Linked DNA regions of Homo sapiens: regions 2 and 3 are each linked to region 1. Evidence: fine-mapped expression QTL. A gene starts in region 1. Each other region holds a variant in brackets. All regions are shown on one strand. Distances are from middle to middle. Region 1 holds the start of MICU1 (mitochondrial calcium uptake 1). Region 2 overlaps MICU1 (mitochondrial calcium uptake 1). Region 3 overlaps MICU1 (mitochondrial calcium uptake 1).

What was found.
Region 2: its variant is fine-mapped to the expression of MICU1 in whole blood (TOPMed, PIP above 0.99).
Region 3: its variant is fine-mapped to the expression of MICU1 in whole blood (TOPMed, PIP above 0.99).

Annotation. Positions count from the first base shown.
Region 1 is chr10:72,620,815-72,631,994 of GRCh38, reverse strand. MICU1 (mitochondrial calcium uptake 1) reads left to right here and starts at 5,916. Exons shown (of 12, transcript NM_001195518.2): 1 at 5,916-5,985. RefSeq lists enhancers at 5,912-6,061, 5,612-6,149.
Region 2 is chr10:72,472,671-72,480,670 of GRCh38, reverse strand. It overlaps MICU1 (mitochondrial calcium uptake 1), which reads left to right. Exons shown (of 12, transcript NM_001195518.2): 7 at 3,415-3,497; 8 at 5,374-5,571. Among named protein-coding and RNA genes, the nearest start is that of DNAJB12, 120 kb to the right of the region's middle. The variant G/AG (reference allele first, on the strand shown) is at 3,182.
Region 3 is chr10:72,375,603-72,383,602 of GRCh38, reverse strand. It overlaps MICU1 (mitochondrial calcium uptake 1), which reads left to right. Exons shown (of 12, transcript NM_001195518.2): 11 at 7,731-7,820. Among named protein-coding and RNA genes, the nearest start is that of DNAJB12, 25 kb to the right of the region's middle. The variant A/C (reference allele first, on the strand shown) is at 4,161.

The sequences.
Region 1 (11,180 bases):
CTCACTGCAACCTCTGCCTCCTGGGTTCAAACGATTCTCCTGCCTCAGCCTCCCGAGTAGCTGGGACTACAGGCACGCACCACCACACTCAGCTAACTTTTGTATTTTTTTAGTACAGACACGGTTTCACCATGTTGGCCAGGATGGTCTCAATCTCTTAACCTTGTGATATGCCCGCCTCGGCCTCCCAAAGTGCTGGGATTACAGGCGTGAGCCATCCCGCCCAGCCACTTATTACTGTTCTTATGCTGGTACTCCAATTATCCCAGATTTGGCCAGTGATGGGCCTTCAAGCTGGCTCCCTTTGACATGTCCTCATTTTATTTTCTGATTGCTTCCTTACTTTTGGACACAACAAGATGTTCCAGGTCATCTTGTACATTCCTGCTGTAGACTTGAAACCAGCCCTGTTTTCAAGAAGACTTAGTTCCTTTTTGTGGAGAAAGGTAGTTCAGAAATCAAGATCTGGGCAGAGATTCTTTAATTTTGAAGTTAGTTTCAATCATAAAATCAAGGAGAATATGTCAATTTTTATAAATCATCATATTTATGCCATCCTCCCACCTCCTAGTGGTAAAAAGCCAGGAAACATTTAAGCTTTTTTAAAATTTTTTTCATATTTATTTGAACATAATTAATTCTGGCTATAAGTATTAGAGAAGAATACTCACTGCAAGAACAACTATGGGTCATAAGTCTCTAGATAGCTACTCAAGTACAATATAACTTCAAAAAGGTTGGGTGTGGTGGCTCACACCTGTAATCTCAGCACTTTGGGAGGCCAAGGTGGGTGGATCTCTTGAGCCAAGGAGTTCGAGACCAGCCCGGGCAACATAGTGATATGTTGTCTCTACAAAAATTACAAAAAATTAGCCAGGGCTGGTGGTTTGCACCTGTAGTCTCAGCTACTCAGGAGGCTGAGGCGGGAGGATCACTTGAGCCTGGGAGGTTGAGGCTGCAGTGAGCTGAGATGGTGCACTGCATTCCAGCCTGGGCGACAGAGTAAGACTCTAAGACTCTCTGTCTCTTTGTTTCTCTGTCTCTGTCTCTGATATATATATTCAAAAGGAGTTTGTGATGGACGACTGCATAGGTTTTGAGATACCATAATCTATGGAACCCTGAAGATAAGTGTAATAAAACAAAGACCATCTCATTGAATTCATTTTAAAGAAACTGAATGAAAGCTTTAGAAAATAAACTTTTTGTAGTCTGATACTTGTTGCAAAAGATGTTTTTGTTTTTTACAGTGGTGTGATATGTTGGAGACTGCTGTGGTAACACATATTATTTTAATGTGATAAGAATAGATGAACTATAAAATGTATGACATAAGGACACCAATTTCTATTTTTAGTGAATGACATTAAATACTGTCCCTTGATAACACAGATCTTTCAACACAACACACTTTTGAAATACTGAAGATGAAATAAATAAACATTATATTTTGCATATGATAGTATGATAGTCCTGGGGGCAAAGATCAAATCTATTTGTCAAGTATACAGGACTTAGTATTCATTCCCAATCCTATCATTGCAGGGGAATCACCTGGGACTTTTAAAATCCAGATTCCAGAGCATCACCCTGGTTCACTGAAGCAGTGTGTCTCATGATCCAAGAATCTGTATTTTAAAAATCTCCTCAGATAATTCCCAGGCATTTGATCACCAGACTGGTTTGGGAACTACTGAACTTGTTAAAAAATACATTTTTACGGTGGTGCAAGTCTCATTATAGATACAAGTTGCCCAAGGGCAGGAATCGAGCTTATAAATTTTTACAAGCCCAGCACTAGTTGTGAGCATTACATATATTAATATGTAGGTATTCAATATATGTCTGTGAAAGAATTTTGACTTCAAATTTTATTGGTCACCAGAGGAGTCTTATTATTAGTTTGTACAGGAGATATAAACCTTGATTAGTGATATCATACATTTATATGACTCGGAACACATTGCATAGCATCCTGAAAAACAATACTGAATTGATGGACAGATTTCTAATGTAGAATATAGCTGTGTTTGGTTATGACCTTGAATTCTGCTAACTTACTCTATACTCTTGGAAATGAAGAAGGAGCTAGATGCGGTGGCTCACGCCTGTAATCCAAGCATTATGGGAGGCTGAGGCGGGTGGATCACGAGGTCAGGAGTTCGAGACCAGCCTGGCCAAAATGGTGAAACCCCATCTCTACTAAAAACACAAAAATTAGCCAGGCATGGTGGCGCATGCCTGTAATCCCAGCTACTCAGGAGGCTGAGGCAGGAGAATCACTTGAACCTGGGAGGTGGAGGTTGCAGTGAGCCAAGATTGTGCCACTGCACTCTAGCCTGGGTGACACAGCAAGACTCCGTCTCAAAAAAAGAAAAAAAAAAAGAAATGAAGAAAGAATACTCACATCTCATATTTATTTGTATAAGATTGGCCTAGTCTGTAAATTGTCTCTGTCTTGTTCTCCTTTCCATTAAATGTTCTACTTGATGCCAAAATGACTAGACAAAATATACAATAGCATTTAACATTTGTATGGTTTAAAACAGTGGTTCTCAAAGTGTGGTCAAAGACCACTGGAGGTTTCCTGAAACCCTTTCTAGTAATCTGTAAGGTCAAGACTGTTTTCTTACTAATACACTGTTATTTGCCTTATCGCTCTAATTCTTTCTTGAGTATATAGTAGAGTTTGCCAGAGGCTACATGAAGTGTAAGAGTGCAAACATTTAATGCAGAAAAGATACAAGAATCTGTCTTCTATTAAGCCAGACATTAAAGAAATTTGCAGCCGGGCACAGTGGCTCATGCCTGTAATCCCAGTACTTTGGGAGGACGATGTGGGCGGATCACGAGGTCAGGGGTTTGAGACCGGCCTGATCAACATGGTGAAACCCCGTCTCTACTAAAAATACAAAAAAATTAGCCGGGCGTGGTGGCATGCGCCTGTAATCCCAGCTACTCAGGAGGCTGAGGCAGGAGAATCACTTGAAACCGGGAAGCAGAGGTTGCAGTGAGCCGAGATCGTGCCACTGCACTCCAGCCTGGGCGACACAGTGAGACTCTGTCTCAAAAAAAAAGAAAAGAAATTTGCAATAATGTAAAACCATGCTACTCTTTTTTTTTGAAGTTGTTTTTCTTAAGAATACATTATTTATGTCAACATATAATGGATCTATTATTTTTAAATGACTAAGTACACATTAAAATAATTTCAATTTTAATTTTCTTTCTTTTCTCTTTTTTTTTTTTGAGACTGAGTCTTGCTCTGTCACTGAGGCCTAGGCTGGAGTGCAGTGGCATGATCCTGGCTCACTGCAACCTCTGTCTACCGGATTCAGGCGATTCTCCTACCTCAGCCTCCTGAGTAGCTGGGATTACAGGCGTGTGCCACCATGCCTGGCTAATTTTTGTATTTTTAGTAGAGATAGGGTTTCACCATGTTGGCCAAGATGGTCTCGAACTCATGACCTCAGGTGATCTGCCGCCTCTGCCTCCCAAAGTGCTGGGTGCCATTGTACCCGGCCTCAATTTTAAGTCCTCATATGCTAAATTAAAAAAAGTTTATAGAGACAGGTTCTTGCGCTGTTGCGCAGGCTGGAGTGCAGTGGCATGATCATAGCTCACTGTAGCCTCAAAGTCCTAGCCTCACGTGATCATCCCATCTCAGTCTCTCAAAATGCTGAGATTATAGGTATTAGCCTCTGCCTGGCCGAATATGGTAAATATCGATAGGTATAACACACATAAATAAAAGTTATTTTGAGTCCTCAATAATTTTTAAGTGTATAGGGGTCCTAAGACCAAAACGTTTGAGAAACAATGATTTATGTTTTTAAATGTTATTTAACAGTTAGTTTGACTGATTAGTTTTATATAGACAAATGTTGCCTAAAATTAGAATTGAATTTCAGCAAATCTTTCTTTCTTTTTTTGAGACGGAGTCTCGCTTTGTCGCCCAGGCTGGAGTGCAGTGGCACGATCTTGGCTTACTGCAAGCTCTGCCTCCCGGGTTCCTGCCATTCTCCTGTCTCAGCCTCCCGAGTAGCTGGGACTACAGGCGCCCGCCACCACGCCTGGCTAATTTTTTGTATTTTTAGTAGAGACAGGGTTTCACCGTGTTAGCCAGGATGGTCTCGATCTCCTGACCCGCCCGCCTCAGCCTCCCAAAGTGCTGGGATTACAGGCGTGAGCCACCGCGCCCGGCCTGAATTACATCATTTAAGAGTGGAAGCCTCAGAGGCCTTCAGGTCAGGTCTATGTCCCGCTACTGCATGTACTGCATTACCTAGGGGTGTCAGCCTGCTTCCCTATCTGCAAATGAATAAAACAGTATCCATCCTAGAGTGGTTGTAGACAAGCACTGGGTTGTATGTAAAGCGCTAGCACAGAGCCATGAACACAATCATCTATTGTACTTAGGTTAGTTGGGTCTGAGAAGAAATGGAGAAAACAGAGTTGATTCTGCTTACTTCACAATTTACCCCAGGGATGGTTTTGTTGGCTTTGTTTCCATGGTTGTTGCCTTTTCCACAGCTCTGCTACGTAAATTCTTGGGAAAAAAAAATTATTTGAAAGTTCTCTGGGACCAGCGAGGTGGCTCGCACTTGTTAATCCCAGCACTTTGGGAAGCCGAGACGGGAGGATCGCCCGAGGTCAGGAGTTTGAGACTAGCCTGCCCAACATGGCGAAACCCCGTCTGTACTAAAAATACAAAAATTAGCCGGGCGTGGTGGGGCGTGCCTGTAATCTCAGCTACTCGGGAGGCTGAGGCAGAAGAATCACTTGAACCTGGGAGGAGGATGTTGCAGTGAGCATCACTGCACTCCAACCTGGGCGACAGTGCGAGACTCCGTCTCAAAACAAACGAACAAACAACCAACCAACACCCCGCTGCCCCCCCCCCAAAAAAATTCTCTGGTATTATAGTCATATTTCCATCCTATTTCCACAGCAGGGGTGAGGATCCTTTGCCATCCCATTTTTCTGATAAAAACACCTTCTTCAGCCGGGCGCAGTGGCTCACGCCTGTAATCCTCGCACTTTGGGAGGCCGAGGTGGGCGGATCACCTGAGGTCGGGCGTTCCAGACCAGCCTGACCAACATGGAAAAACCCCGTCTCTACCAAAAATACAAATTAGTAGGGCGTGGTGGCGCATGCCTGTAATCCCAGCTACTTGGGAGGCTGAGGCAGGAGAATCGCTTGAACCCAGGAGGCAGAGATTGCAGAGAGCCGAGATCGCTCCACTGCACTCCAGCCTGGGCATCAAGAGTGAAACTCTATCTCAAAACAAACAAACAAACAAACAAACAAAAAACACATTCTTCAAGGGAAAACATGTTTTTAAGTGGCTTCTAGAGATTATAAACTCTGCAATAATATTAGTCTGCAAATAAAACACCTGACAAAATCATCCACCAGAGGAAGTGGTGAGGGTTTCTAAATCCAAAAAAGTCTCAAGGTTATGAAACAGGAACATTTAATCTCTGAGAAAACCTAAACGGAGTTGGAAAGAAACAATTTCCAACTCACTGTGGTCCAGTTTTCTTTTCACGAACTCCTTTTTGCTTAGCCAACATAGCCAACACGAAAACGGGTACCGAGGAGGTGTTACAAGCCACAGTAAATTTCTCAACAGATTCCTATGACCCTTGTGGAGGGGAAAAAAACCAGAAGAAATGCCCGAGAGCTTCTGGGAGCTCTCCAGCTTTCCCGCCTAAACGCTGAGGGGAGTAAGGGGGAGTGACGGGGCTAGGGCGGGGCCCGAGGCTGGGGCGTGGCGCGTTGATTTCCCCGCCCCTCCCCGTTCCTTTTCCTCTGTGCCCCTCCCACACGCCTGTCTCCACGATCCCGACAGGCCCAGCGGCTAGGAGAGTCACGTGAGAGTGGGCGGAGGGGGTGGAGGTTTGTCTCCGCTGTTTCATCTCTATGGCTGTCAGAGGTGGGCGGCTTTGACCGAGAGGCTGCTGGAGCTCGTGTTTGGACGCGTGAGTCTTGGACTCTGGAGGGTATAAGGAGACAGCAATTTAGGGAAGGCGAAGGGGAAGGGGGTTGGCGAGACAGCCTTAGGGAACTGGGCTTCGTGGCTGGCCGTTTGTCCGCCCCGGGCATCCGGCTACTTCTCGGGTCTGGCGGGATACCTGTCTCTCCCTGATGCGCTCAGCTTTTGGAGAGGAGTCCGTAGTCTTGCTTGCCTCCCGTCCTCCACTTTCCTTCACCCCAACCCGTCCCTTCTCCCGTCCCGGGAGAACTTCTCCCAGTGCCGGGTTCGCAACTTGGCGCCGACGCCCCCCTCCTCACAGGCGACTGGGACACTCTGGTAGCCTTGACTGGCTCTCCTGGAATTTGTGGATGTGGTTAGAAGTGGGTGCGGGAGTTCACAGATGGATTTCTAATACGGAGAAATATTAACCACTGAATCGAAATAAGTGGAAAATCAGTGAGGACTCAAAGGAGAAATACAAAGTGCAGGCTACTCGGACTGTTCAGTTTTTATCTTTTCCAGCGCCTTCCCGTTTTCATTACGTTCTCCCTGTTTTGTTTTCACCGTCGCATTCTGGCCGGCCATAGGCTGTTTTGAGAAAGAGCTAGATGTTATTGACTCTATGTGAATGTTGGGAGAACAGTTTAAAACAAACTGTTCTTCAAGTTGCCTTCTCTGTAATCTTATGGTTGATGGTTTCTTTACCTTCCAATTTTCCATGTCTTAAAAAATACGGTGGCCATTAGTAAATATAAGTAGAATAAATATCTTATAGCTAAGGGACTAGAGTAAAATATTTTATTTTTCCTGTGGTACCTTAGAAACGCCCATTTTCTTCCTATTTATCAATAAATGTTTCTATCTCACTTGTTTGGGTGGCTTCTTTGATATGCCTTTGTTTATATTAGAACATCCCTTTGGGGCACGTAGGGAAGTGATCGAGCAGTATAAGAAAGGAGTTTGCATTTCATGAGGTGAAACAAGTTCGGTGTGGATAGCTGTAGGAGAGTTTAGGTTTCATTGGACCATATGACAAATAATAAACGTCAGTATCTTGAGACAAAGGTGTTGGCCAGAATGACCCACCTACTGTGTTTCTGGTGTGGACCAGGTAATGAGCTTTTTGAATATTGCCTTATCCTAAAAACTTTAGAACCCATTGCCACTTGTCTGTAGGAAGGTGGCTTTTGCCTCCAGCTACTCTTTGTCCCAATCCTTGGTTTGTCCCTGATTGTCTCTTCCACTTAAGAACATCACTCTGGCTACCTAATATATCAAGCAAGTGTCTCTGACATCTTCTGAGTGTCCTTACTGAGAGCCATAAAACATAATATTAACAAAAAGTGAATATTCTGGAGTGGCTTGTGTGCCTGAGGAGAAAGGGAAAGAATGATAGAAACTAATAGAAGCTAATAAATGCAAGAGAACAAAAGTGTTTATTGCTGTCTTCCTTTATATTTACTATATTCAGTAGATTGTTTACATTCCTAAGAAGTGCATCTTGAGACTAACTTTCCTGTGTTTAAGAATAAAACAGGCTGGGTGTGGTGTCTCAGGCCCATAATCCCAGCAATTTGGGAGGCCGGGTGGATCCCTTGAATCTAGGAGTTTGAGACCAGCCTGGGCAATATGGCAAGACCATCTCTACAAAACACAAAAATTAGCTGGGCGCATGCCTGTAGTCCTGGCTACTTGGGAGGCTGAGACAGGAGGATGGCTTGAGCCCTCGAGGTTGAGGCTGCAGTGAGCTGTGATCGTACCATTGCACTCCAGCTTGGGCGACAGAGCGATACCCTGTCTCTTAAAACAACAACAAAAGAATAAAACGATATGAAATTTCTCCATAATGCAATATTATGCAAAATAATTATAATTGAAATATTTAACTGACCAACTCCTTCAGATCTTATGCTATTCAGAGTTATAGGACTAATATAATTGATAAAGCTTTTTTAAACCCAATTTTGCCACCTTCAGTCTTTAAAGTTAGCTTTATCTCTTGAGCCATTTTTACAATGGCTGCAGCACTTGCTGAACATTAACCATTTTTTCCATATGCAGTTGTTTAGTGTATCCCTTTTAAAATAAGAACCAGTTTTTAATTAATTAATTAATTAATTAAATGGAGATGGGGTTCAGCCATTTTGCCGAGGCTGGTCCTTTTGTTGAGGGGTGGGGACGGAGTCTCATTCTGTTGCCCAGGCTGGAGTGCAGTGGTGTGATCTCGGCTCACTGCAACCTCTGCCTCCTGGGTTCAAGCAATTCTCCTGCTTCAGCCTCCGAAGTAGCTGGAACTACAGGCGCGGCACCACATCTGGCTAATTTTTGTATTTTTAGTAGAGATGGGGTTTTACATGTTGGCCAGGCTAGTCTCGAACTCCTGACGACCTCAGGTGATCCACCTGCCTCGGCCTCCCAAAATGCTGGGATTACAGGCCTGAGCCACCACACCTGGCCTACCCAGGCTAGTCTTGGAACTCCCAGACTCAAGCGATCCTCCCGCCTTGGCCTCCCAAAGTTCTGGGATTGCAGGTACAAGCCACCATGCCTAGCCACTAGAACCAGTTTTTTTAAAAAGGTTTACTCAACTGTTTTTTCCACACATATTTTCTTTTTCTTTCTTTTCTTTTCTTTTTTTCTTTCTTCTCCCTTTCTTTCTCCCTCCCCTCCCCTTCCCTTTTCTTTTCTTGTCTTTTTTTTTTTTTTTTTTTTTGAGACGGAGTCTCGCTCTGTCTTGTCTTTTTGACAGAGTTTCACTCTCGTTGCCAAGGCTACAGTGCAATGGCGCGATTTTGGCTCACTGCAACCTCTGCCTCCGGGGTTCAAGTGATTCTTCTGCCTCATCCTCGTAAGTAGCTGGGATTACAGGAGCGTGCGCCACCACGCCCGGCTAATTTTTGTATTGTTAGTAAAGATGGGGTTTTACTATGTTGGCCAGGCTGGTCTCGAACCCCTGACCTCAAGTGATCCGCCCGCCTCAGCCTCCCAAATTGCTGGGATTAGAGGTGTGAGCCACTGTACCTGGCCTCCCACTCATAATTTAAAAATGAAAATATTGTAATAGCTTTATTTTGTGCCAGGAGAAGAAGGTGATTGTTTTTAGATGGATATTCTATGTGCTTTGGTAAATTATGAGAAAATTGTTAATACTTTTAAGATATTGAAATATGAATAAGCATGTTTGAGAAGAAAACACGGGCAATATTTTTAAACATTTTAAATTTCCTATTATTGAAGTAATATGCTTATTTTTGGAAAATGGAAACATTATCGAAAATACAATATTGAAAGTCAAAGTCCTAATTTATCTTTTCTCTTACTACCAGGTAACCACTAGTTCCCTTTGCATATTTGGGATTCAGTGTGGAAAAGTAAGGCTTTGGAGTCAGATTCCCTGGGAAAGATTGTAATACCAGCACTAGGCTTACTTCCTTCAACCTCAGAAACCCAAGAAGAAAGAGAATTTCCCTTTCTCTACAGTTCCAGCGCACCACTGTATGGTAGTTTCATTGACCTGACTTGGGTCTTTGCCCATCCTAGAGGCAGTCCCTGTGGCCAGAGTGATGGAATGCTTTGTGTGGCTAGGCTTGGAATTTGTCCCTATCCTGGAGTGGGAAGGAGAGGAATATAGTTTGAAACCATTTGAGTTAAGGGTGGGTGACAGTTCCTAAAGAAAAATTGAGGTGATGCTTTCTGGAGAAGAGCAATTGGTTGCTGGACAGGCAAAAACAACAGATGTTCACTAAAATAATTTTCATGTTTTTTTTTTTTTTTTAATTAAGAGAACTTGGGGCCGGGCGCGGTGGCTCACGCTTGTAATCCCAGCACTTTGGGAGGCTGAGGCCGGCAGATCACGAGGTCAGGAGATCGAGACCATCCTGGCTAACATGGTGAAACCCCGTTTCTACTAAAAAAACAAACATACAAAAAATTAGCCGAGTGTGGTGGCAGGCGCCTGTAGTCCCAGCTACTCCGGGGAGGCTGAGGCAGGAGAATGGCGTGAACCTGGGAGGCAGAGCTTGCAGTGAGCTGAGATCGTGCCACTGCACTCCAGCCTGGGCGACAGAGCAAGATTCTGGCTCAATAAATAAATAAATAAATAAGAGAACTTGGTTTCCTTTTGCAATATAAAAAATTGTATTTACAGTTTATGTGTTGATTTTTTTCTATTTTTAATGCCTATTATAATCACTTAAAGAACTTGAAAAAATTTACACTCTTCCAGTGTGTGTATCTGTACTGTTATTACATGTTTAGTACCCCTGCTCTGGAATATTCAGGTTTTATAACTTTAAATATATTATGTATTAGCCAGCTTGTTAAAATAAATTCTTGATATTTTTATTGCTTTGGGTGAACTTGATTAGTAACTGCAGTTAATAAATAGTAAATAAAAATGTTTTAAATATTTAAATACATGTTGTGGATATGATTAAATACTTGGTTCTTTTCATTGTTTTATGTTTAAAAATCTGTTAGTATAGAAACCACTTTATTTTTTTATTATTATTATTATTTTTTGAGACGGAGTTTTACACTTGTCGCCCAGGCTGGAGTGCAATGGCGCGTTCTTGGCTCACTGCAACCTCCGCCTCTTGGGTTCAAGCAATTCTCCTGCCTCAGCCTCCCAAGTAGCTGGGATTACAGGCACCTACCACCACGGCTGGCTATTTTTTTTTTGTATTTTAAGTAGAGATGGGGTTTCACCATGTTGGTCAGTCTGGTCTCGAACTCCTGACCTCAGGTGATCTGCTAGCCAAAGTGCTGGGATTATAGGCGTGAGCCACTGCGCCCATCCAAAACCACTTTATTTTGAACGTGGTATGTAAAATAAATTACCATAATTATAACTAATTGCTATTACTGGGTGTTAACTTTAAAATTATAATTAACACTAGTTTTGTATCTTTATGCCTTATTCTGGTGGTTCATCATTAAAACAATTTTTTTTTCTGTAGAAACGGGGTCTCACTATGTTGCCCAGGGTGGTCTCAATCTCCTGGGTTCAAGCATTCCGCCTGCCTTGGCTTCCCAAAATATGGGGATTACAGGCATGAGCCACCATGCCTGGCCAATCATGCTTTAAGAGCACGATAGAGTGGATACCTGTAGATAAGATACCTGTGGGTAAAACAGGTAACAGAATGTCAGTTGAAAAAGCAAAAAAAGGTAGCTGTGGAATTGGACAACTGTGAGAAG
Region 2 (8,000 bases), 150 kb after region 1:
CGCTCTTATCAAATGTTTTCCTATTTCTATTAATTTGGGCTGTATTCCTCTGGATATTGTGATGCCGCTTCCTCTGTCACTGCCTCCTTTCCTTTTCGTTGCACTTTAAACATTGGCTTCCACCTGCAATCTACCCTTTTCTTGACCTTCTCCTCACTCCTCAGTTTTGCATGGGCAACTTCCTTTCAGGTTCTTTGCAGCTAGCCACTTGTATGCCCATAAATCCCAGCTTAAACCTCTCTCACTGAGCTTTAGACCCATATTTCCAACTGTCTCCTGAACATCTTCATCTGCATAAGCTGAGACCCCTTAAATTTAGCAGATCCCGTCTGAAATCATTTTATTTCTCAAACATTTTACATCTATTTGCTCTCTTTCTTCATGCCATGCAAGCTACACAGTAGTCTAAGCCAGTCATGCTGTCATTCCTTTTCACTCTCAACTCATCACAGCTAACTAATCATTAAGTTCTATAATTTCTGCCTTCTTTGGGTATCTCAAATGTGTCCCTCCTCTCCATTACCACTGCCATCACTGCAGTTTGCATTTTCAACATTTAAAAGAGCTTCTGATCTTCTTTAAAGCTGGCCTTTCTTTTCCAACTCATTCTTCACACAGTAGCTGGAGAAGTCCTTTATAATTGCTTGATTGTGTCACTCTCCTACTTAAAACCTTCAGTGGCTTCATATTTTCTGCCATTGTTACATTCTCAAGTATCTACAGGAATTAGGCAAATAACATATAGGAGTGAAGTGGGCCAAGTGTGACAAAATAAGGAAGAATAAGAGAGAACATTTCCACCTGAAGAGATTTATAATCAGAAGTTTAAAAAACATGACAAACCAGCCGGGTGCTGTGGCTCACACCTATAATCCTAGCACCTTGGGGAGCTGAGGCAGGAGGATCATTTGAGGCCAGGAGGTTTAAGACCAGCCTGGGCAATGTAGTGAGACCACATCTCCACAAAACATAGAAAAATTATCCAGGCTTGGTGGCACGCACCTGTAGTCCTAGCTACTCCAGAGGCTGAGGCAGGATTGCTTGAGCCCAGAAGTCTGAGGTTGCATTGAGCTATGACTGTGCCACTGCATTCTAGCCTAGATGACAGAACAAGACCCTGTCCCAAAAAACAAAAACACATGACAAACCTATCTGAGAGTTTAATGTTGCCTGTGGATCTTCCATTTACTACGGTCAAGCCTAAACTCCTGAGCATAACACAGGCAGTGTTTCTGTGATATTGGTTATCTCCTTGAGATGATCAACTTGGAATGTTCAGCTTTTGCAGAGACTGACATAACCACTGTGTCATGTTTTGTTGCTTAGTTTTTAGGTCAAATCGTGTCAGCATGAAGAGTGTGTGTTTATCATTTTAAGTACCTCTATGTTCACATTAGAGGCCTTGGAACATAAGGAAAGTTTGTAGGCTTTGGAGTCAGTGTTGACTTAAGTTCAATTCCCACTTCTGCCAAAAAGGAGCTGTGTGATTTTTGAGCTAGCCATTTAACTGCTTTGAGCCCCAATATCCTCCTCTGTTTAAACAATAAAGAAATGAAAGTTTTCAAGATTGAGAGTATGAAGTCAAATAATAAACACCTCCAATTATCTAGCTCAATGCCTGCCACATAGTAACTCCTCAGTAAAATGTAACATTCAGACAGGTAGCAAAAATTTGAGAAGTGACAACAAATATACAAAACTAATTCCCCCAGCTGCATCCTTCCCAGCAATTGAAGGCTGGGTCATGGTGGCTCACACCTGTAATCCCAGGACTTTGAGAGGCCAAGGTGGGAGGATCACTTGAGGTCAGGAGTTCAAGACCAGCCTAGCTGACATGTTGAAACCCTGTCTCTGGCCTAAAGGAAAGCAAACCTATTGGAAGTCAATATCAAGTGAAGCAGACAATTGGAAGCTGACACACACATGATTCACCCAGGCAACTAAAAACCAGGAGTTTCCAGCCTAGCTGCCTAACTACCTGAAAATGGAATTTGAGCCCAGAAAGTGTTTCTGTTGACAAATTCATGAGCAGGATGGGAATATGGCCTCTCTAACAATTATACATAATATACAAAGTTCATTTTACTTTTTTCTCTGCATAAAATCTTAACTTTTTTCATGTAAATGATGTTAACTGAAATTTTAATTCACTAGTATAAGGACACATAGAATATTTATTTTGGTTTATTCTCTAGAGCTGTATAAATTTGAAGCACCAAAGGAAGGAAGTAAACAACTTAGTTTTCTTTACCAGAACATTTAGTATGGGAAGGGAGGAGGGCTGTTGAGTTTATATTTTATTCCAATGCACAGAGTATATTAATGATATTATGACTGATCTAGGAACACTAAAGAAGCCTTGAAAAGCTTTCATCATTAAGGGAAAGTTTTGTCAAGCTTTGCATTTTTTCATTTTGTTATTTAAACTTCAGCTTAATTTTACCATTTAAGTATATTTAGTAATTTGTGTATGCAGCTGACATGATCGAAATAGGGGGCTGAGGCCAGACGCCGTGGCTCACACCTGTAATCCCAGCACTTTGGGAGGCCAAGGCGAGTGGATCACTTGAGGTCAGGAGTTCAAGACCAGCCTGGTCAACATGGTGAAACCCCGTCTCTGCTAAAAATACAAAAATTAGCCAGGCATGGTTGTACATGCCTGTAATCCCAATTACTCGGGTGGCTGAGGCATGAGCATCACTTCAACCCTGGAGGCGGAGGTTGCAGTGAGCCAAGATGGCACTACTGCACTCCAGCTTGGGCAACAGAGTGAAACTGTCTCAAAAAAAAAAAGAAAAAAAAATAGGGGGCTGAGTACCTTACAGTGTACTTTTCTGCCTTACCATAGAGCTGTAGTGATAATGAATAAACTAATAAAAGAAACCAACTTGAAATTATCCATGTTGGCAGGGTGACATGCCCAGAACTCCTGACTGCACTTACAACAAAGAGACTAGAAAGAACAAAGTAGAAAGCTGGCTTGTTGTGAGGGTAAGACTAAGATGTAGTGTTTCAACTTCTTACTTTGCAGCAATATGTCTCACCCTAGACATACTTTCTTGCCCAGATAAGTAATACCATATTGAAGCAACAGAACGTTAATATTACTAAGCTAAGAAGATGGTGTCTCTGAAAGCAAAGCTAAATCATTTAAGGCAAAGCATGTTGAAACAAAAAGGTA[G/AG]ACAAGTGCTGTCTTTACTGGCCGTAGTACTACTCTTTTTTGGTTTCAAGGAGTATTCCTAAAAGGGTGATCTCAATAAATGCAGTTTCATTTTCCATTTATTGAGACTTTGACTCAGTCACTTTTATGGTGACTTTGATATTACATTTTAGTGTTTAGCCTTTTGTTTTTCTTTAAAAAGGGATTTATTTTTGGTCAATGCCTTCTAAATATTTTTTTTCTCTCCTCTGCAGCTCCTCAGAGAAATTTTGAAATTGCCTTCAAGATGTTTGATTTGAATGGAGATGGAGAAGTAGATATGGAAGAATTTGAACAGGCAAGTTGTCCTGGAGAGTTCCTCTAAATACATTAATATTTAAAATACATTTTCATGTGCCTTGGAGTTACCTTAGCCTTGGTCAGTATACTCAGAGGCTATTCCAATTTTTGAAGTACCTAAAATGTCATTTCTCAAAATTATTCTTTGAACAGGTGGGTTGGTTTTATTTGTTTGTTTTCACTCTAAATGTAATGAATTATTTGAACATACCGTTAAGGTCACGGTTGCTCCGATTCTCCAACATAAATTGGGTTATAATGCCTCTAGCTGGGAAGCTAAATTATGGCAATTCAACATTTACCAAAAAGCTGCTATGTGCTAGGCAGTTCCAGAATACAAGGACTACATATTTTCTTAAAGGATTTCTATAAGAGAAGGAAAAATGGTGCCATACCATTTTTGACTATAGTAGGTGACAATTTCAAAATCCTAGGAATAGGTTACATTTCCATAGAACTACTGCCATTGGAGAACCATGGTGCTTCTCCAGATACAGTTATTATGATTGCCAGAAGTGGTCTCAAAACAGAAAAACTGTATGTATAGGAAAAAGCATTTTTTGTATTCTCAAAATGAGGAAAGGGGCAAATATTCCAGGAAGTGGGAGAAAGTATCAGGTACATTATATAAGGTAAGAAACTGGGCTGAACACGATCACTCATGCTTATAATCCCAGCACTTTGGGAGGCAGAGGCGGTTGGGGGACCACTTGAGGCTAGTTTGAAACCAGCCTGGGCAACATAGTGAGACCCTATCTCTACAGGGGGAAAAAAAATTAGCTGGGATTGGTAGTATGTGCCTGTAGTCCTAGCTACTCCGGAGGCTGTGGTGGGAGGATCACCTGAGCACAGGATTTTGAAGTTGCAGTGAGCTATGATCGTGCCATTGCACCCCAGCCTGTATGACAGGCAAGACCCTGTCTCTTTTTTTTTTTTTTTTTTTTTGAGATGGAGTCTCGCTCTGTCACCCAGGTTGGAGTATAGTGGCACAATCTTGGCTCACTGCAACCTCCACCTCCTGGGTTCAAGTGATTCTCCTGCCTCAGCCTCCTGAGCAGCTGGGATTATAGGCACCCACCACCACACCCGGCTAATTTTTGTGTTTTTAGTAGAGATGGGGTTTCACCATCTTGGCCAGGCTGGTCTCGAACTCCTGACCGCAGGTGATCCACCCACCTCAGCTTCCCAAAGTGCTGGGATTATAGGCATGAGCCACCACACCTGGTCATGAGAGAGTTTTTGAGTCTCCAAAACAAATGTTCATCCTTTCCTGAACAGAGATTTTCTAAGAGGATCCCAATTATAAAGTTGTCAGGCTGTCTGTGTTAGAACCCTAATTCTGCTACTTACCAGCCACTTGACCTTGAGCAAGTTATTTAATTCCGTGTGCTTCAATCTTATTTATAAAATAAGGATAATAATAGCACCTATAAGATTATTGTAGGCTGGGCGCGGTGGCTCACTCCTGCAATCCCAGAACTTTGGGAGGCCAAGGTGGGAGGATCACTTGAGGTCCGGAGTTCAAGACCAGCCTGGCCGACCTGGTGAAACCCTGTCTCTATTAAAATACAAAAAATTAGCCAGGCATGATGGTGTGTACCTATAGTCCCAGCTACTCAGGAGGCTGAGGCATGAGAATTGCTTGAACCCGGGAGGTGGAGGTTGCAGTGAGCTGATTTTGTACCACTGCACTCCAGACTGGGTGACAGAGAGAGACTCTGTCTCAAAAAAAAAAAATTGTTGTAAGCATTAAAAGAGATAATTATAATACAGAGTAGGCAAATAGTAAACAATAGTTATGATTCTTGCTTTTCTATGTTTATGTTTTCTCACTTCCTAATATTTTTCTGGATGTGGGTTTGATTCTGTATTAGGTTCAGAGCATCATTCGCTCCCAAACCAGTATGGGTATGCGCCACAGAGATCGTCCAACTACTGGCAACACCCTCAAGTCTGGCTTGTGTTCAGCCCTCACAACCTACTTTTTTGGAGCTGATCTGAAGGGAAAGCTGACAATCAAAAACTTCCTCGAATTTCAGCGTAAACTGCAGCATGATGTTCTGAAGCTTGAGGTAGGTCTTCCTTAGACTCAGTAGATCCATCACATGTGGAACTGATGGGCAGGAGGGCCTGTACTATAGGCATTCTTTCCATTTACCTCCAGCTGTGAGAACTGATTGATTTGAAGCTTATCAGTGCTTTATAAACTGACAGCAGATAGGAAACAACATGTTCTGTGAAAATGTCATGAAGTGAAGTATTTCTGTAATCTAAAACCAAAAACCTCTAAATTGAAAAATCTTAGCTGTCTTTGTATGTTCCGTTTGTGGAGAAAGAAACTCAGGGGTCACAGCAGTTCTCAATCTGAGCATATATTCCTGCTTTTTTGTTTATTGTGTGGAAGACACCAGAAGATGGAGATGAAGAAGGATGGATAATTGCAAAGGTAGTAAGAGCTGGAAACACAAAATGTCAGAATAAAAATATGTGTGCTTAATATAAAATATATGTGCTTAACCAGGCACAGTGGCATACACCCATAGTCCCAGCTACCCGGGAGGCTAAGGTGGGAGAATCGCTTGAGCCCAGGAGTTTGAGAGCAGCCTGGGCAACACGGTGAGATCCTGTCTCTTTAATTGTTTAAGGCAATGTTGCTGAGAGTTGCAAAGGTATCTTACTGTGTTTGGGGATTTACAAGTTTACTTTTCCATTTAAAGTTTAGACCATCATGCTATTCTAGCTATTTATTCTGTTCCATTCAAAACATTGATCAAATGCCTTCTATATGTATTTTTGTCTGGAGACAAAAATCTAGTCTCTAATTTCTTGACATTTTTAAAAATTCTCTTACACTGGTGTTTCCCAACCTCTTTTCTTTTTCTTCTTTTTTTTTTTTTTTTTTTTTTTTTTTTTGAGACAGTCCTACTCCATCAGCCAGGGTGGAGTGCAGTGGCATGATATGATCTTGGCTCACTGCAACCTCCACCTCCCAGGTTCAAGCGATTCTCCTGCCTCAGCCTCTCGAGTAGCTGGAATTACAGGCATGTGCCACCACACCCGGCTAATTTTGTATTTTTATTAGAGACGCAGTTTCACCATGTTGGCCAGACTGGTCTTGAACTCCTGACCTCATGTGATCCTCCTGCCTCGGCCTCCCATAGTGCTGGGATTATAGGTGTGAGCCACCGCACCCGGCCTCTCTTTTTCTTTTAACACACGCCCTACCTTAATATTATTTGGAATTTCAAAACATTAACTACTATAACTAAAACAGGTGAAAATACTGGAGAAAGGTGCTATGTTGTTTTTAAACTATGTATGTTACTTCTGTATCTGCTTTCCCTGTTTCCCCAAGATTCTTATATATGATTTCACCTTTTCCACCCACTTGTCTCAATTGTGTTGTTTTGTTCAATGTCGTTTTGTTGTAACACTGATGAGCGGGAACAAATTGATTTCCCCCTAGAGCCACTTTCTGTGCGGAGTCCCCTGTCTGTTTGAGTTTTCCCTGAGTACTCCGGTTTCCTCTCATATCCCAAAGATGTACATGTTCGGTGCACTGGAGTGTCTAAATGGTCCCAGTCTAAGTGAGTGGGTGTGTGTGAGTGTGCCCTGAGATGGAGCGGCATCTTGTCTGGGGTGGGTTCCTGCTTTGCACCCAGAGCAGCCAGGATAGTCTCTGATCATCCTCCATCCTGAACTGGAATAAGCATGTTAGAAAATGAAAGAATGCAAATTATTGTGAAATAAACTCATAAAGTAGATGATAAACAATGCAGTGCAAAAGCTCTCAGTGAGACTGCCATATTGGTTATTGTTTATGTTTGAACTTCATGGTAGGAGGAGGTACTTATTACAATTTTCACTTTGCAAACATTTATTTCTTGATTTAACCCACCACCACTATGACCACCGACATCTAATCACTAAAAATTGGGTAAATGACTATCTTACTTGTTTTTATCAATCTTTCTTAGATCTATATATATAGCTCACATTTATTTCAGTGTTTACTATTAGAAGTGTTTTGGGTCTTTATTTAGAAATTTGGTGATGCTTTTGTTTTCATTTTGAGATGGAGTCTTGCTCTGTCTCCTGAGCTGGAGTGCAGTGGCGCGATCTCCACTCACTGCAGCCTCCACCTCCCAGGTTCAAGCGATTCTCCTGCCTCAGCCTCCTGAATAGCTGGGATGACAGGCGTGCCCCACCACGCCCAGCTAATTTTTGTGTTTTTAGTACAGTCAGGGCTTTACCATGTTGGCCAGGCTGGTCTCGAACTCCCAACCTCAGGTGATCTGCCCACCTCGGCCTCCCAAACTGCTGGGATTACAGGTGTGAGCCACCACTCCCAGCCATGCTGATGTTTTTGTGACCAGAAATATGCCATAGGAAATTAACTCTCATCTTTATCAATTAGCCTATGGTAACATTGGTTTTGTTAAGCATTGTTTCACTTAAAGTCTCAGTTTCCTAGAACCTAGTGAAGACTTACTGTATACTA
Region 3 (8,000 bases), 250 kb after region 1:
CTGGTTAAATAAACAAGGAAATTATGATCCATCCTGTCAGTGGAATACTATGCAGCTATTGAAGGAAGCTGCTCATGTCCATCTGGAATTATTTCTAAGATATGTTGTTAAGTGAGTAAAGCAAAACAATATTTAGTACACCACCATTTTGTGGGAAAAGGGAAGAAGCGAAGAGTACATATTTGATTTTATATCTACAAAATATTTCTGGGGAAACTAGTGACATTGATTGTCTCTGAATGACTGGGTGACTGGGGTATAAGGTTGGGAGAGAGACTTCACCCCTTTTGTACCATTCAAATTTTGAAGCAGATGACTATATTAGCGAATCAAAAACATCTTTTTTTTTTTTTTTTTGAGACAGGGTCTTGCTCTGTTGCCTAGGTTGGAGTACAGTTGTGCAGTCATAGCTCACTGCAGACTTGAACTCCTGGGCTCAGGTAATCCTCCCACCTCAGTTTCCCAAGTAGCTAGGACTGCAGGAGCGCACCATCGTGCCCAACTAATGTTTTTTAAAATTTTTCGTAGAGATGAGGTCTTCCTCTATTGCCCAGGCTGGTCTCATTCTTGGCCTCCCAAACCACTAGGATTATAAGCATGAGCCACTGCACCTGTCCTAATTAAAAACAACTTTTAAAATAAAGCTAACAGAATGAATATTTAAACAATGTGAGAGGGAAAAGCAAGTTACTATTGGACGGAGGCTTGCTCTGTCGCCCAGGCTGGAGTGCAGTGGCGTGATCTTGGCTCACTGCAGCCTCCGCCTCCCGGGTTCAAGTGATTCCCTTGCCTCAGCCTCCTGAGTAGCTGGGATTACAGGCATGTGCCACCACGCCTGGCTAATTTTTGTATTTTTAGTAGAGACGGGGTTTCGCCATGTTGGCCAGTCTGGTCTTGAATTCCTAAGCTCGGGTGATCTGCCTGCCTTGGCCTCATAAAGTGCTGGGATTACAGGCGTGAGCCACCACACTTGGCCTGTTTTAAAGACTTTCTTGCAAGGAGACTTGACTAGTCCTCTGTAAGATTTCTCCTAATGTACTCACCCCCTGCACCTTCTGTTCTAACTCTCTAATCAGGCCTTAGCACTCCTTCCTGCTTTTAATACTGTATTCAAACAGAAACCCCCAACCCACATCACTCACTACCATACATGCGCAGTTGGTCTCTTTTCTCCCTTAGAATTCAGATACAGGCCAGGCGCGGTGGCTCATGCCTGTAATCCCAGCACTTTGGGAGGTCAAGGCGGGTGGATCACCTGAGGTCAGGAGTTCGAGACCAGCCTAGCCAACATGGCGAAACCCTGTCTCTACTAAAAAAAAAAAAAAATTAGCCGGACGTGGTGGCAGGCACCTGTAATCCCAGCTACTAGGGAGGCTGAGGCAGGAGAATCACTTAAACCCGGGAGGCGAGGTTGCAATGAGCCGAGATCGCACCACTGCACTCCAGCCTGGGCGACAGAGCAAGACTGTCTCAAAAAAAAAAAAGAATTCAGATCCAAAATGTAACTCGTACCAAATACACACTATTCCATTATTTCCCATATGTGTGTATTAATATATCTGATATCTGTCTCTTCTACGTGTTTCTCCATCTTAATGTGTGTGTGTGTGTGTGTGTGTGTGTGTGTGTGTGTGTGTGTATAGATATATATATACACAGTCTCCTCCACCAAACTGTGATTGTCCCATGGGTGTGTCAGCTGAAATCATTGACTACCTAATGATGCTTGCAGAAATGCTAGCCCTTTGTGGAAAAGATGTGATGGGGATTTTTAATAAACCCAGATACAATACTAGACAATGGCAATAAATCTTACTGCCAAGTTAGTTTGTACCAAATTAAGCGTGTAAGCCCATTGAAGCCATCATCTGGGATGATGCGCTCAGGCTCAGAAAACAGATCTTCTCCGTGGTGTGTCCTGGAAGTTAGGAGCTAGGATTAGCAGCATCACCTCTGACAGTCAGGCAGCCTGAGTACACAGGGGGTCAGCGGGCATAGGGCCTAAGAGCACCGTACAGAACAAGGAATTGTTATCATTTCCATTACTTGTAGGCTGCATTGCTCTTGGCTCCTTAAATTGCTAGTTCTCCTAAATGTTGTCGTTTCCCCTCCCCTCACCCCAGAACTAGGTTAAAATGTGCATTTGTATTAACAAAAGCTCATGGAAGGAGATACAAAAGACAGGACACATGCTCTTTAAGGAAATATCCTCCCCCTTGTTCCACCCAAAGCCATCTAGGGATGGACTTAAGAAAACAAGACATCTGCATCAGCCTTTCCAGGGCTGAAGCAGAACCATCTCCCCTCACTTAACCTTGGCCATCACCAGTCAGCTTTTGATTTTCTCCACTGCAGTCCGGTAAGGCAGGAATAGTACATGGCCACACAGCTTAGAGACTGTCAGCCCAACTTGTCATACCACCTTTCCAAACACTTTTGCATTAGGAAGAGGCAGGTAGCTCCTAACTGGGTCATGCTGCCTAAAGCTGTATCTGTGCATCAGAGGCAGCTGTGGAGAAAAACTCCCAGGGCCACATTCGTTACATGTGCTTTTCGTTGGATTGCTGTTGAATACACTTTTTAAGTTGTCCCTAAAATTGTCGGTATGAGTTCCTAGGGAATACTCAGTGTCTTCCACTGTAGGGGGTAGTCAGATCCACGGCCAACCTATAATTAATGCTGGTGCCTCACAACTCCCAGTTATTCAATTATTCATTCATCCCTCACCAAAAGGACTTGAGTATTTCCCATGTGACTTTTCTTTAATCTAAACCCTTTCTCCTCAGGGTGACAGATTCATGTCATGGAGGAATTGATATTGTCCATATATGGAAGGGATCATGTGGACCCAGTGTGTATAGGGAAAGGGCACCAGCCAAAATTCGAGACCCAGCTCTGTTACCATCTAGCATTGTGACCCTGGGCAAATTATTTAACGTCACATTTCCTCTGAGGTATCTTCCAGTTCTAAGATTCTCTGATTCCAAGTGGACATTTGGGCTCTCATCACTTCAGAGCTCTTCTGTTTAACTATTGTGGTGAATAGATTTATGTATGTAGTTTCTGATATTATATCACACAAACTCAGGGTTTCTTTTTACTGTTGAAACAGCCAGTCATGAATCATGCTGGAGAGTAAATTGGGGACCTGACACAACTCGGATTCTGCCTGGACTTTGCAAAAAGCCAGATGGTGCCAGATTTTTGAGTACTAGTTGAGCCCACTTCTACAAATTCTCTCCCATCCCAATCTAATAGGAATCACCCAATCGCACTTAAACCCTTTGTTCAGGCAGCTGGGCCAGATTTGTACAAAAATACGTAGTATTTAGAAAGCTAGGCCTTCGCTGGGGTGCCTTCATGCTCCCTGTAGACATCTTTCAGATTGGGAGCTGGAATCCCAACCATCAGTCAGCATCATCAAATAGGGAGGCCAGAATTCCAGTACCAACAACTGGTCTGCATAAAAAAGTTGAGATCTGGGAGGAAAACTTGTTCTGCTTGCTGTGATTATGACTGGATTCAGAGATATTGGAAGCAAATATGAATGAACCAACTCTCAGGACCAGCTGTCAAGCACTTGGCTTGTAATCTGCCGTCATCCCACTCATCCCAGGTGCTCCTAGTTTGACAGCTCACCAGCTATTAAATGTTGGCTTCCTGCACGACTCTGATTCATACCCCAGGGGCCTATAATGAGGATCTTGTACCAGGAAAGGGGACCCCAGCTAGGCTGTTTGCTGGCTAACATCCCAGTGGTTTGGGCTACAATAACTTAGCAGCCCTAGTTCTTCCTCCTATGGTAGGAAGGACACCAGAGCCCTCTCCATGTGAGATGGAACATAATCTATAACTTTCTGTGAAGAGATGGCATCTGTAATGAGGCATTCTTGCTGGAGGCCTCCAGAAGTCCCTATTCTACAACCACTTAATACCAATTTAATGAGCCTCTCATTAGAAATTGTCAAGAGCTCTCACTGACATCCTTGAGTATTATTTAATTAATGGTTTATTTACAGGAAAGGGCACCATCTTCATGGGGAGAAGATGAGTACTTGAAATATCAAGACAATTGCAGAAGGCTGTGCCCTGAGAGAATGGAAGAACTGGGAAAGAGAAAAGGAAGTCAGAAGCTTAAGGTTGATGTGAAATGCAGAAAA[A/C]GGAATGGTTAACAGAAAGTGTTCATGTTTATCTAATACAGAACAGGTTCCGATCCCCTTCTCAGGACACATTTCTGTGGCAGCAAAGAGTAAAGCTGTAGGCAATCACAGTTTAAGCGCTTCCAGTTCCTTCTGATCTCATTCTGTTTTCACTGAGTAATCTTTTGAGGTTAATCTTCTGAGGTGAATGGGGTTTCCTTAGTAGCTTTCCTACTGAGAAGTATAATGACCAGCTGTCATCATTGTAGTTCTCTTAACAGTTACTATTCTTATTGCAAATTGGCCTGATTTCTGTTCCTTCTGTGGACAGTTTAGTTAGCAGGAATAAGTTTTTCCTGAGCCAAATCAAGTATCTAGATTTGTGAGGCTAAATTTCTAAACTCTAGAGCGCTATAGTCTTGTAGATTTCCCAACACACATCTCATGAATATCCACCACAATATCTTATACTTCAGTCTTTTAGTACCAAAGAATGTTAATTTCCTCTTCACCCTAACTCAGATCCTGGGAGAAAAGATGGGATATTTCCACCCCAACCTCACCCTCAGATTCTAGATGACACCAATAAACCCTTCTTTGTGCTAGTAAGCCGCCTCAGCAGTTGTCTGGTGGCATCCCTCCACTTGAACATGAGAAAATTAAATCTAAAGAGATCAAGTGACTCCATCCGGGTCACACAGCACGTTGGTGGTGGGGCCAGAACTGGAGCCCAGGTCCCGTTACTCCAAGCCTTGTTTTCTACCGCATTACCTTGCTCCTCTGCATTGCTCCAGTGTTTGCATCTGCTGATGTTGGGGGCACTGTGGTGATGTATTAATTAATTCTTGCATTGCTATAAAGAACTACCTGAGACTGGGTAATTTATAAAGAAAAGAGGCTTAATTGGCTCACAGTTCCACAGGCTGTAAAGGAAGCATGGCTGAGGAGGCCTCAGGAAACTTACAATCCTGGTGAAAGGCGAAGAGGAAGGAGGCACGTCTCACATGGCCAGAGCAGGAGGAAGAGAGAGAGGTGGGAGGTGCCACACACTTAACCAGATCTCATGAGAACTCGCTTACTATCATGAGAACAGCAAGGGGGAAATCTGCCCCCATGATCCAGTAACCTCCTACCAGGCCCCTCCTCCAACACTGGGGATTACCATTTGTTTTTGGATTTTCAGGGTTTTTTTGTTTTTGTTTTGCTTTTGTGAGACAGAGTCCCGCTCTGTAACCGAGGCTGGAGTGCAGTGGCACAGTCTTGGCTCACTGCAACCTCCGCCTCCCAGGTTCAAGTGATTCTCATGTCTCAGCCTCCTGAGTAGCTTGGACTATAGGTGCGCACCACCACGCCCAGCTAATTTTTGTATTTATTTTAGTAGAGACAGGGTTTCACCATGTTGGCCAGGCTGGTCTCGAACTCCTGACCTCAGGTGATCCATCAGCCTTGGCCTCCCAAAGTGCTGGGATTACAGGTGTAAGCCACCACGCCTGGCCTGGGAATTACAATTTGACATGAGATTTGGGTGGGGGCACAAATCTAAACCGTATCGGGTAAATATATGGAGGTGATAGAGGCAAAGTGAAAGATCAAATGCAAAAAATGACAAGATGGGCTGATAATAGGAACTGAAATTATAGGAATGCGATAAACAAGGCACAGTGGTTCTAGTTTAAGTTCACTTGGCTTCTGGATGAATCTAATGTGATGATTATAGAGAGCTCTTCATTACCAGCATAAATGGAAATTAATCCTTTTCTTTCCCTCATATTTTACCTCACTTAAGAATGTGTCCAGAAGCAATAACATGATTTATAGGTGTAGCTAGACCAGGTTTGAGGATAAATGAGAGAGAAGGCAGTGGAAATTGCCTCGTCCTTCCTGTCTTGTCTTTCATGAGAACCCAATTCTAACATAATTGCTAGTGTTTGACGGTGAATGTCTGGGAAAGAGAAAACGGCAAGAGAAAAGTGATTTTTTGCTGAGGTCTAAAAATATATATTTTTTAAAAGAAAGATATGCATCCTGAACTATTGGCCGGGCCCGCTGAGTGTGGTGGCTCACCCCTGTAATCCCAGCACTTTGAGAGGCCGAGGTGGGCAGATCACCTGAGGTCAGGAGTTCAAGACCACCCTGGCCAACATGGTGAAACCCCATCTCTACTAAAAATATAAAAATTAGCCAGGCGTGATGGCAGGCACCAGTAGTCCCAGCTACTTGGGAGGCTGAAGCAGGAGAATTGTTTGAACCCGGAAGGCAGTGGTTGCAGTGAGCCGAGATCGTGCCACTGCACTCCAGTCTGGCGGACAGAGTAAGACTCTGTCTCAAAAAAAAAAAGAAAGATACGCATCCTGAACTGTTAAGACAAGGGCCAGTGCATATACCAATGGGCTCAGTTGGAAGAAGTCTGGTGCAAAACCAGTAGGGAGGAGGGACAGAGTTGGGCAGGGAGGGCTCACTGTGCAGGCACTTAGCTGTCATTCACCCACCAAGGCGTGAAGCCTTAGTGTACTCACACCACAGACAAGCCTCCTTGTTCCCACCACCCATTTATATATTTCTATAAATATATATATAAATATAAAAATATATATGGCATAAAATGTGCCATTATAACCATTTTTAAATATACAAGTCAGTGGAATTACATTAATTACATTCACAATGTTGTACAACCATCATCACTATTTTCAAAATTTTTCCATCACCCCAGACAGAAATTCTGTATACATAAAGCAGTAACTCCCCATTCCCCTCAGCCCACAATAACCTCTAATCTACTTTCTGTCTATAAATTGAATATCAGGCACTTTTTATTTTTTGAGACAGTGTCTCACTCTGTTACATAGAGTGTTACTCCAGTACAGTGGCGCCATCTCAGCTCATTGAAACCTCTGCCTCCTGGGCTCAAGCTATCCTCTCACCTCAGCCTCCCAAGTAGCTGGTGCACACCACCATGCCGGGCTAATTTTTTGTATTTTTTGTAGAGACAGGGTTTCGCCATGTTGCCTCGGAATCCCAAAGTGCTGGGATTACAGGTATGAGCCACCGCGCCTGGCCAGCCTAGGCATTCTTAATTAACTATATATACCTCCTAAACTGTAGCAGCAGTAGAAAAGAACAGAACTTGAGGTGAAAAGGAGGGAGCTTATGAATAAAAACTCAATTATCATTTTTTCTTTTTTTTTTTGAAACGGAGTCTCACTCTCCCAGGCTGGAGAGCAGTGGCGTGATCTCAGCTCACTGCAACCTCCGCCTCTCGGGTTCAAGCAATTCTCTGCCTCAGCCTCCCAAGTAGCTGGGATTACAGGCACCGGCTAATTTTTTGTATTTTTAGTAGAGACAGGGTTTCACCATCTTGGCCAGGCTGGTCTTGAAGTTCTGGCCTCAGGTGATCCACCCTCCTCGGCCTCCCAAAGTGCTGGAATTACAGGCATGAGCCACTGTGGCCAGCCTAACTTATCATTTTCTTAAATGTGACTTAAATGCAGTTGAAAACTTGTATTATGACTGAGTCGTTTTATCCCCTGAATCAGAGAAAGCAAAATGAAAATCCCTCTGCTGTGCTAATGCACCTCTTTCTTTTTTCAGTGACCATGCAGCAGGTGGCCAGGACAGTGGCTAAAGTGGAGCTCTCAGACCACGTGTGTGATGTGGTGTTTGCACTCTTTGACTGTGATGGTGAGTGGGGCCCTCTGGAGCCCGGAGGGGAAACAGCCTAGCTGCCCTTAGAGGCCCTTGTGTATAATGGAGCCTTGCGGACAGCATCTGTGTACCAGCCCATCCTCTTCAAGCTACCCACCTTTCTCACATTAGCACCTCAGCCCTTGGCATGATGATACTGAGAAATCGAACCCCTGG